2 linked regions of the Homo sapiens genome follow. Changing the gene in region 1 together with any one later gene gives a genetic interaction. Each region holds a gene or a part of one and is shown in the gene's direction. Other genes may lie near its edges.

Region 1 (5,300 bases):
GCCCCGCCCAGACCTATTTTCAAAATTAGAAAACCGTGAGGCTTCTGGAAGAAGATGAGAAGAATATCTTCATGACCTGAGTGTGTGCAAAGGTTTCTTAGGGCTCAGGATGCCAGAGTCACTTAAAAAAGCAAAAAAAACCCAAAAAAAAAACCACACACACAAAGATAAATATGATTGATTACATCAAAATGTAATCACAGACTACTCTAAGAAAATGAATGGGGAAACACAGGGACCTATTTGACAAAAGACTGATATTCAAGATAAATAAAGAACTAATAGGCCAGGCGCGGTGGCTCACGTCTGTAATCCTGGCACTTTGGGAGGCCGAGGCGGGGGGATCACTTGAGCTCAGGAGTTCGAGACCAGCCTGAGCAATATAGTGAAACCCCATCTCTACTAAAAATACAAGAATTAGAATTAGCTGGGCGTGATGGCACGTGCCTGTAGTCCCAGTTACTCGGGAGGCTGAGGCTGGAGAATTGCTTCAGTCAGGAAGATGGAGGTTGCAGTGAGCCGAGATTGTGCCACTGCACTCCAGCCTGGGCGACTGAACAAGACTTCGTCTCAAAAAACCAGTAGGGCTCCAGGCCTGGGATTGGGCCTCTGCTGCTCTACTCCCTGGACGTGTGGCTCCGTCCTTGGAGTCGGCCTTTGGTTTTCATGAAGAGTAGTGTGCATTAACAGCTGAGTGGTTTTATCAGCCTGTTTCCTGCCAACAGTGTATGAGAGTTCCAGTTGCTTTACATCCTTGCCAGCATTTGGTGTTGTCAGTCTTTTGAGTTATTCTGATGGGTGTGGTGTGTCATGGTCTTAATTTTAGTCCTCAGTCACTAATGGTGTTTAGCACTTTTTCCTGTGCCCATGACAATGTGCATCTTCCTTTGTGAAGTGCCTGCTCAAATCTTTTGCCCATTTTACATTGGGTTGTGTGTCTTTTTATTATTGAGTTGTAGCAGTTATTTATATAACCTTTATATCCTGGTTACCTGTCCTCTGTCTGGTTGCCTATTCATTTTCTTAGAGTTGTCTGATGAACAGAAGTTTTACATTTTGATGTAATCAGTTTTCTCTTATATTTTCTTTTATAGTTACTGCTTTCTGAGTCCTAGGAAATCTTGGCTACCTTCAGGCTGTGAAGATAATCTTTCATGTTTTCTTCTGTAAGTTTTTTTTTTTTTTGAGACAGAGTCTTGCTCTGTCGTCCAGGCTGGAGTGCGGTGATGGCGATCTCCGCTCACTGCAACCTCTGCCTCCCAGGTTCAAGCGATTCTCCTGCCCCAGCCTCCCGAGTAGCTGGGATTACAGACATGCGCCACCATGCCCAACTAATTTTTGTATTTTTATTAGAGACAGGGTTTCACCAGGTTGGCCAGGTTGGTCTTGAACTCTTGACCTTGTGATCCACCCGCCTCGGTCTCCCAACATGCTGGGATTATAGGCGTGAGCCACCGTGCCCGGCCTATAAATTTTATAGTTTTAGTTTTATGTTTAAGCCTATCACCCATTTCTAGTTTAGGTGAATGGTGTGAGATATAATTAAATATTAATTTCTTTTCCATATAGATATCCAGTCATTCCAGCACCATTTGTTGAAAATGCTATTGTATTGCGTTTTGGAAATTAAGATGACTGTACAAATGGTAATTGATGTCTGCACTCCCTTTTCTGTTCCATTGTTCAATCCTTGTGTTAGTACCACACTTTTAATTACTGTAGCTTTTTAGTAAGTCTTGAAGTCATGTAGTTGTAGGTCTTCCAATTTTGTTGTTTTCAAGCTTGATGTGAATATTCTAAATCCTCTGCATTTCCATATAAATATCAGAATTATCTTTACCAGTTTTACAGAAAAGTCTGGTAAAGTTGTGATTGGGATTGCATTGAATCTATGGATCAATTTGGAAAGAAATGACACCTAAACAGTATTGAGTCTTCAAATATATGAACTTGGTGCATTTTCCTTCTTATTTAAGCCTTTTAAAATTTCTTTTTAGGCCGGGTGCAGTGGCTTATGCCTGTAATCCCAGCACTTTGGGAGTCTGCAGCGGGCAGATCAGCTGAGGTCAGGAGTTCGAGACCAGCCTGGCCAACATGGTGAAACCCCGTCTCTACTAAAAATACAAAAATTAGCCAGGTGTGGTGGCAGGTGCCTGTAGTCTCAGCTACTTGGGAGGCTGAGGCAGGAGAACTGCTTGAACTTGCTCAGGAGGTGGAGGTTGCAGTGAGCTGAGATAGTGCCATTGCACTCCAGCCTGGGCAACAAGAGCAAAACTCTGTCTCAAAAAATAATAATAATAAAAATAAAAATTTTGGGCCAGGTGTGGCGGCTCACACCTGTAATCCCAGCAATTTGGGAGGCTGAGCCGGGTGGATCACCTGAGGTCAGGAGTTTGAGACCAGCCTGACCAACATGGAGAAACCCTGTCTCTACGAAAAATACAAAATTTGCCAGGCATGGTGGCGCATGCCTGTAATCCCAGCTACTCTGGAGGCTGAGGCAGGAGAATCACTTGAACCTGGGAGGCAGAGGTTGCAGTGAGCCGAGATGGTGCCATTGCACTCCAGCCTGGGCAACAAGAGTGAAACTCTGTCTCAAAAAAAAAAAATTCTTTTAGTTCTGTTTTATGGTTTTCAGTTCAGAAGTCTTATACATATTTTGTTAAATTGATTTCTAGATATGTTTCTTACCTTTATTGTAAAATGGAGCCATCATTTGCATCATTCATTACTCTGTATGTAATGTGTTATCATTCTCTACCTGCTTTCAAGATTTTCTCTTTATTTTTGTTTTTTAGCAGTTTGTCTGTGGTGTATCTAGGTGTCATTTTATTTGTATTTATCCGGAGATTTATTCTTGAGATTTGCAGAGCTTCTTAAATCTGTAAATTTATGTCTGTCGGCCAATTTGGGAAATTTGGAGCTATTAGTTTTAAAAATATTTCTTCTGTTCCATTCTCTTTCACTTCTTCTGTATGTGAGTTCAATTTCACTTCAATTGTATGTGAGTTAGACATTTTGATATTAGCCCACAGGATCCTGAGGTTCTTTCATTCTTTTCAATCTTTTTTTTTTCTCGAAGTTTGCATTTCGTGAGCAGGAGTGACAGTCATTCAGGATGATTTTTGAGATTCCTAGTTCAAGAGTAGTTCCTATTCTTTTCTAGGTGTAGTCAAGTATGGCTTCTAATTCTACTAGAAGGCTTTTTTGTCGGGGAGGTGGTTCTATGTCCTTTGGCTCTTACATTTTCTTTGTGTCTTTCACAGCACAGTTTTCAGAGGGTACCCTTTCTCTTTGGTTTTGTTTTGTTTTGTTTTGTTTTAGACGGAGTCTTGCTCTGTCTCCAGGCTGGAGTGCAGTGGCGCAATCTTGGCTCACTGCAACCTCTGCTCACTGCTACCTCTGCCTCCCGGGTTCAAGCAATTCTCCTGCCTCAGCTTCCTGAGTAGCTGGGACTACAGGCACGCGCCACCACACCCAACTAATTTTTGTATTTTTAGTAGAGACTGGGTTTCATCATGTTGGCAAGGCTGTTCTCCATCTCTTGACCTCGTGATCCGCCCGCCTTGGCCTCCCAAAGTGCTAGGATTACAGGCGTGAGCCACCGCGCCCGGCCAACAGAGGGTACCCTTTCATTCTTTTTCTCCTTCTTCCCAGAAGGCTTGCGTTTTCAAGACTACCTCATCAAGTTCTGCATGTGTTTAAAAGTGTCTCTACCCGACCTTCCCTTCCTCCCTCCCGATTTAACGGAATTCTTTGTTGGTGTTTTCATACTTACCGTGAGTTTTCTTTTTCAGGGTGATATTTTAGTTCCATCTTAGGCTCTCCATTGTCCTCTTCTCTCTTCTTTTTTTTTTTGAGACAGAGTCTCATTCTGTCACCCAGGCTGGAGTGCAGTGGTGTGATCTCTGCTCACTGCAACCTCTGCCTCCCAGGTTCAAGTGATTCTCCTGCCTCAGCCTCCCGAATAGCTGGGATTACAGGCGCACACAACCACGCCCACCTAATTTTTGTATTTTCAGTAGAGACGGGGTTTCACCATCTTGGCCAGGCTGGTCTCAAACTCCTGACCTCGTGATCCGCCTGCCTCAGCTTCCCAGAGTGCTGGGATTACAGGCATGAGCCACCGCGCCCGGTGCGCCCAGCCCTCTTCTCTCTTCTTTGCATCTCTCTTCCTATCTGGATCCCTCTTTGCTGTCCTTAAAGAGCTGAGATGAGAGATTGAGAAACATCTCTACAAGAAATTGACGTTTTTCTACTTATGGGTAATTAGAAGCTTGTAGTATTTTCAGTCTTCTAAGTATGTTGAAGATATGAGACGTTGGTGATTTTCTTTGTTTCTCCGGTTGGTTGGTCTGTGTAGTTTTTGGACATGTGTTTGGATATTTGGATTTATATAGCTGCCATAATCTTGGCTATGCAGGTAGTCTTTCCTGACACTTCATCCTGAAAGATTTGAAGCCTTTGGACAAATTTTACAGTGGGCTGGGTGCAGTGGCTCACGTCTGTAATCCCAGTGCTTTGGGAGGCTGGGCAGGAAGATTGCTTGAGCCCAGGAGTTTGAGACCAGCCTGGACAACATAGTGAGACCCGTGTCTCTACAAAAAATAAAAAATATGCCGTGTGTGGCGTTATACAACTGTAGTCCCAGCTACTTAGGAGGCTGAGGTGGGAAGATCACGAGCCAAGGAGTTTGAGGGTACGGTGAGCCATGATCGCCTCACTGCACTGGGTGGCACAGCGAGACTGTCTCAAAAAAAAAATTTACAATTAATGTCTGCATATCCTTCACCTAGGTTCATAAATTTGTACTTTTGCTTTATCTACTTGCCTTTTTCTCTCTCTCTACACACACACACACACACACACACACACACACAATTAGTTGAATGAATTGAGAGTAAGTTGCAGAAAACATGACACTTTACTCCAATATTGCATCATACAAAATCATACATCTAGTGATAGGCCATTGTCCTACAGAATCACGATATAATTATCACACTAACCAGCTGTGGTGGTGCACACCTGTAGTCTAAGCTACTCGGGAGGCTGAGGCAGAAGGATCACCTGAGCCCAGGAGGTTGTGGCTGCAGTCTCATATTCATCCCATCATCAGATTTCTCCCATTGTCCTAATAATATTCTTTATAGCTTTTCTTTATCCCTGATCCGAAATTTCATTGAAGATCACACAGTGCATTTAGTTGTCATGCCTCTTAAGTCTTTATTTATTTATTATTTATTTTTTGAGATGGAGTCTTGCTCTGTTACCCAAACTGGAGTGCAGTGGCATGATCT
Region 2 (5,300 bases), on another chromosome or scaffold:
AACCCAGAGATTACAATAGTTACAGCTTTTTCATGTTATACATTGAGTAGAGTTTGTATGTATTGTAACTTACATATATTGTAACATGTATGTATAGTATAGAGAATTTGTAAGTGTTGGACATACTATTTTGGGGCATTATACCCTATCACATAAGCTTTTTATGTAATATAGTTAAGTACATAATCCAGGTTAATACACTGTTTAAAATATCCATCCAAAATAGATTCTGGTTTGTCAGTGTTAGCACTATTTTTCTTAACAGTGCTCATATTAATTTTAACTGCTTAATAAGTTGTAATAGAAAGGTTATTTCTCAGATTCCTCATCTATGATAATTGGAAGGGTGGTATGCTATTACGTAGACATTAGTGCTTCTTACTGCTTAAGATAATGGTATTAAGGCTACAAAGTTTATCTAGATTTATCAGATAATTAACGAAGAATTTGGCCAGCTCTTTCGTCTTTGTTTACTCAGTAGTGTCATAACTATGAAGTACTGTATAGTAATACGAAAGAACTATAGAGGTATTGTTATGAATCTTTTTTATATGTTCTACCTAAAATGTTGCTCACAGTATTCTTTTTCCCCCTCTTCATGAGCCAGTTCCTTTTTCCTGGGACTTTATCTCTACTTTTTCCTTTCCTTTCCCAGCCATTAAAATAGGGTGAGATGGTTATTAGACGAGGGAGAGATGCTTTATCTTTGTTGTAAATGATCATCAGAGTTTAACTTTATAAACTAAAAAAATTGTACCATTCTTAAATATTTTTCCCCTCTCTAAGTTAAAAGAAGTAAAGTCAACTTGAAGACATCACTTAATAACTATTGAAATAACATTTTGAATCAAATCATAATTAGATGAAAAATTTTGTTTCTTAAAAGATAGTTGCTTTAAAAGATAAGGCTCTACAGTATTTTTCAAAGACTTACAAGGTTAGCAGAAAAGTGTAAAATATTATTTTATATTTCTGGCTTGAATCTTTTGACACATGATTATTTCCTTTTTAGGGACCAATGCAGATGGAAGCGACCTACTTAACAGTTTAGGAAGCTGGTTATTTGGAAGTGGTTCAAGCTGAGTAGAATCTGCTTGTTGTCTTAGAACCTTGAAACAGTTCTGTTGTGATTTTGAGTTATGTCACCCCCTTTACTCAAGAACATAGTATCTAGTCTTTATTTAAATTATTTTTTTGTAACATAAAACTCCATTAGACATCTTTATAAAGACTCCTTAAAATAACTATCAAATAGATAATTTCTATTTCCAGGCTCAACCCACATAGCATATTTAAAGCTTGAGATTTGAGGTTAGAGAATAGTGGTAATACGTACGTACTTTCTCACCATTCTAAACAAAAGCTGAAATCTCAATCTAAACCTCCCCTCTACCACTACCAAAGGGAGGAAGAAAATCTAGAAAACTAAAAACTACAATATTCTTCTTTATGCATATTTATGTTTATTCTTCCTTTAAAAATATAAATTTTGTATCAGTTGTATTAGGCAGATACTAGTGGTGGCTTACAGTTTGGTCTACTTTTAAATATTTGTATATAAGTTATCCTTACGTTTTGCAGTTTTGAATTTCACACTGGTATCTTCCTGCCATTCAACTTGCTTTAGGGTTGTTGGTGTTGTGTTTTGAAAGATTGTGAAGTCGACCTTCTAAAAATGAGTTCAAAGAAAAATCAGTAAAGTAAATATCCTCCTGAAATTGTAAGTTTCTTGGCAAGTAGAATTTTTTGTATTAACTTCTGTTTTAGGTTATCTGCAAACTCAAGAATTGAGAGAACTAGACAGCATAAGCTCAGATTTAAGGAAGATACCATTTTTCATAGATATGGTTTTAGCTGTTTTTGAATTGTGAGTGTTCAGTAGCAAGCTTTTCAAAGTTTTTGTAATTGTGGAAATAATGTATGAGAAATATTTAGACAGCATCTGTTTCTATTTTTAGACTGGGCTGGCTTAGATGAAGATGAAGATGCACATGTCTGGGAGGATAATTGGGATGATGACAATGTAGAGGATGACTTCTCTAATCAGTTACGGTAAGTTTTAAGCCAGATTTTTATTGTAGTTCAGTATTAATTATAAGCATGGAATATGTAATTTACATAGATGATTAACCTCTTAAAAGCTACTTAATCTTTGAAATAGGTTTTTGAACTGTGTAAAGTAAGACATATTGTCTTCATCTCCTGTGATTCTAAACATGAACACTTTGTGTAATTGCATACAACTTTTATTCTTTCTGGTCTTTTTACAAAGGTAGTAAAATAGAAGCATATTTGCTATTTCTTATCCTTAGGAATTTAATTCTGTCAATGTTAATTTTCTACCAATATCAAATAACTCAGCAGAAATTAGAATCATAGAGTGCTGGGACCTAATAGATTGGTGATTCTCAAACTGGAATGGAGATTGGGGTTGTGAGAATGTACTGTGTCATATTCATGTATAAATCTACCTGATTTCATTTATTTATTGAGGTAAAATTCATGTAACATAAAATTAAGCATTTGAAAGTGTACAGTTCAGTGGCTTCTAGTACATCCTCAATATTGTGCAACCATCATCTCTATTTAGTTCCAGTATTTTCAGCATCCCAAAAGGAAACACAGTACTTGTTAAGCAGTCATTCCACGTTCTTTCTTGCCCTAATCCCTGGCCGCTGCTGATCTGCTTTCTATCTCTAAGTATTTGCCTGTTTTGGAAGCTTCATATAAATGAAATCATACAATATTGTGACCTTGCGTGCGTACCTTTTTTCACTTAGCATAATGTTTTCAAGGTTCATTCATGTTGTACCATGCATCAGTACTTCATTCCTTTTTATGGCTGAATAATATTCATATACATGTTCCATATTGTATATTCCAATTTATAATAATACTATATGGATATGCCACGTTTTATACATTCATCAGTTGATGGACATTCAGACTGTTTCCACCTTTTAGCTATTGTGGATAGTGCTGCTATGAACGTACGTGTACATATATTTGAGTACCTGTTTTCAATTCTTTTGAAAAGAAATTTTATATATATATATATACACACACACACACACACACACACACACACAAGTGGAATTGTTGGGTCATACGTTAATTCTATATTTAACTTTTTGAGGAGCTGCCAAGCTGTTTTCTACAGCAGTTGAACAATTTATGTTCTCACTAGCGTTCGTACTAGCAGGGTGTGAAGGTTTCAGTCTCTCCACATCCTTGCCAAAACTTATTTTTCTTTTTTGTTTTAAATTATAGCCGTATTTTAATCTATTTTTTCTTTTGTTATTTGTGCTTTTGGTGTCATATTTAAGAATTCATTGGCAAATTCAATGTAATGAAGATTTATCTTTGTTTTCTTCTAAGAGCTTTATAGTTTTTGCTCTTACATGTCAGTCTTTGCTTTGGGTTAATTTTTGTATATGTTATGAAATAGGGCTTCAGCTCATTCTTCTGCATATAGATGTCTAGTCTTTCCAGCACCATTTGTTGAAGAGACTTTTTTCCCTCCTAATTTTATTTTGATTCAGGCTGTATTTATTTGTCTTGGCTACAAGAATAAATAGACTGTCATATACTTTGCTCAAGTAAAGATATAGAAGATATATGTATTCCAGTCTTCTAATTTACTAGTCTAGTAAGCTTGTTCAAACAGAAAGTGAAATAGTTTATAATAAATTTTTAAACTTTGATTTCTAATAGTAATGCAGTAGCACCAGCTCCTACACTGCATTTTTTTTTATTGGCTCTATAAAGACTTAGAATTTTGCTGGAGACTGATAATAATTTTACCTATCTACTTTTTTTCTCATTTTTAGAAATAGTATAATTTACCTTTCACTGTTATACTGATACTTCTACAGTTTTTCATTTCCGTGTCTCAAATATTGCTGACTGATTTTTGACTACATCTTTTGGTTCTTCTAGTACCCTGAGATGTAATTATCCAGAGCCTTGAGATTTTAAACTGCCTTAATGCAGTTATCTTACCTGTCTTAGTTTTCAATTTTGTCTTAATTATGTTGTTTTTCCTTTTATAGTTTTATGGACAAGATAAAAATGATAGCTATTGAACAATAATCCTGCTTTTTCTCTAAAATCTGTTAATGTTACATCATCTGTTCCAAGCATTGTACCTGCTCTTTCTCATTCTTCATGATCAGTATATGGCTCTTAGAAGCCCCTTCTGTTCTTTTTACAGATTTCAGTTTATTTCGAGGATCAGATTAATTCTATGTGTACAAGCTCATGCCCTTTCTTTTTATATCTGTCTTTGTTTTATGTCCTTCAAAAAATGAGCCACATTAGAGAACACCCTACTAGCTTTTGAAAAATATACATTCCCTTTTGTTCCGCCTTGGCATCATTATGCTATTAGACTATTTATTTTCAGGTCTTCCAAATGCTGTTGATCTCTACTCTGTGTTTTTAATCACGTGTCAGAGTTTTCTTCCTGATATGTTTTTGACATTTTGAAATTGAGGCTAAACAAGTTTTCTTCCTTTGACATTCAAAATAGTCAAATTTCTTTGAAGTTTTGTTTCTTTTATGTCTTTCATTAGCACTTTTCTCTTAAAACTGATTGATACATTGTTGAATACTATAATTTTTACCAAGAAACTTTCAGTAGTAAATGTATTGATAATTAGATTTCACATCATTACATGTTGCCTTTTTATTGCTTTAGAAATAGAACATTATATATTTGTGGCTTACTGTTTTTATAATACACCCCCACAGTGCCATTATGTACTCTTGTGTTTCTGCCTTTAGGTTTGTGGATTTCTATAGGTATATAAATCTATTTTTGTTGTTTTTTCACTGTTGTTGTTTTTTGCCTGAGGTATATAAATCTTGATGCCTCCATTAGTGAATAAGATTTTTCTTTTTATTTCCCCATTTGAGTCATGAGTTCTTTCTTCACTAAGATTGTTGCCACATTGCCAGTGGTGTCAAATAGAACTTGCTGTAGTGATGGAAATGTTTGAGAAGCTGCTGTATAGAAGCAATCAGTTACATTTGGCTACTAAGCACATGAAATGTGGCTAGCACAGCTAAGGGACTGAATTTTTTGTTTTATTCAATTAAAATAGCCACATATGACTACCATATTGAATAAAACAGCCTCGCACAATCCTTGCTTTAAAAAATTTGTCTTGATTAAAAGACTCACACAAAGTTATTCTTCCTAGTCTTTTCTGTAAAGTACATGGAAACCCTTAACATAATATCATAAGTCATGGTAAAGAATGGAGTTTACTGTTGTCTGATGTTATTTGGTCCTAATC

Evidence for each region. A genetic interaction does not mean that the proteins touch.
Region 2: of RAD52 (region 1) and SEM1, changing one enhances a phenotype caused by changing the other (phenotypic enhancement), as found in Homo sapiens cells (one study listed by BioGRID).

What each region holds. Positions count from the first base shown.
Region 1 is NC_000012.12:938,633-943,932, reverse strand, and holds part of RAD52 (DNA repair protein RAD52 homolog), read left to right. Parts: intron 1-5,300. UniProt on the Homo sapiens protein: Involved in double-stranded break repair. Plays a central role in genetic recombination and DNA repair by promoting the annealing of complementary single-stranded DNA and by stimulation of the RAD51 recombinase.
Region 2 is NC_000007.14:96,691,550-96,696,849, reverse strand, and holds part of SEM1 (26S proteasome complex subunit SEM1), read left to right. Parts: intron 1-1,958; coding exon 1,959-2,052; intron 2,053-5,300. UniProt on the Homo sapiens protein: Component of the 26S proteasome, a multiprotein complex involved in the ATP-dependent degradation of ubiquitinated proteins.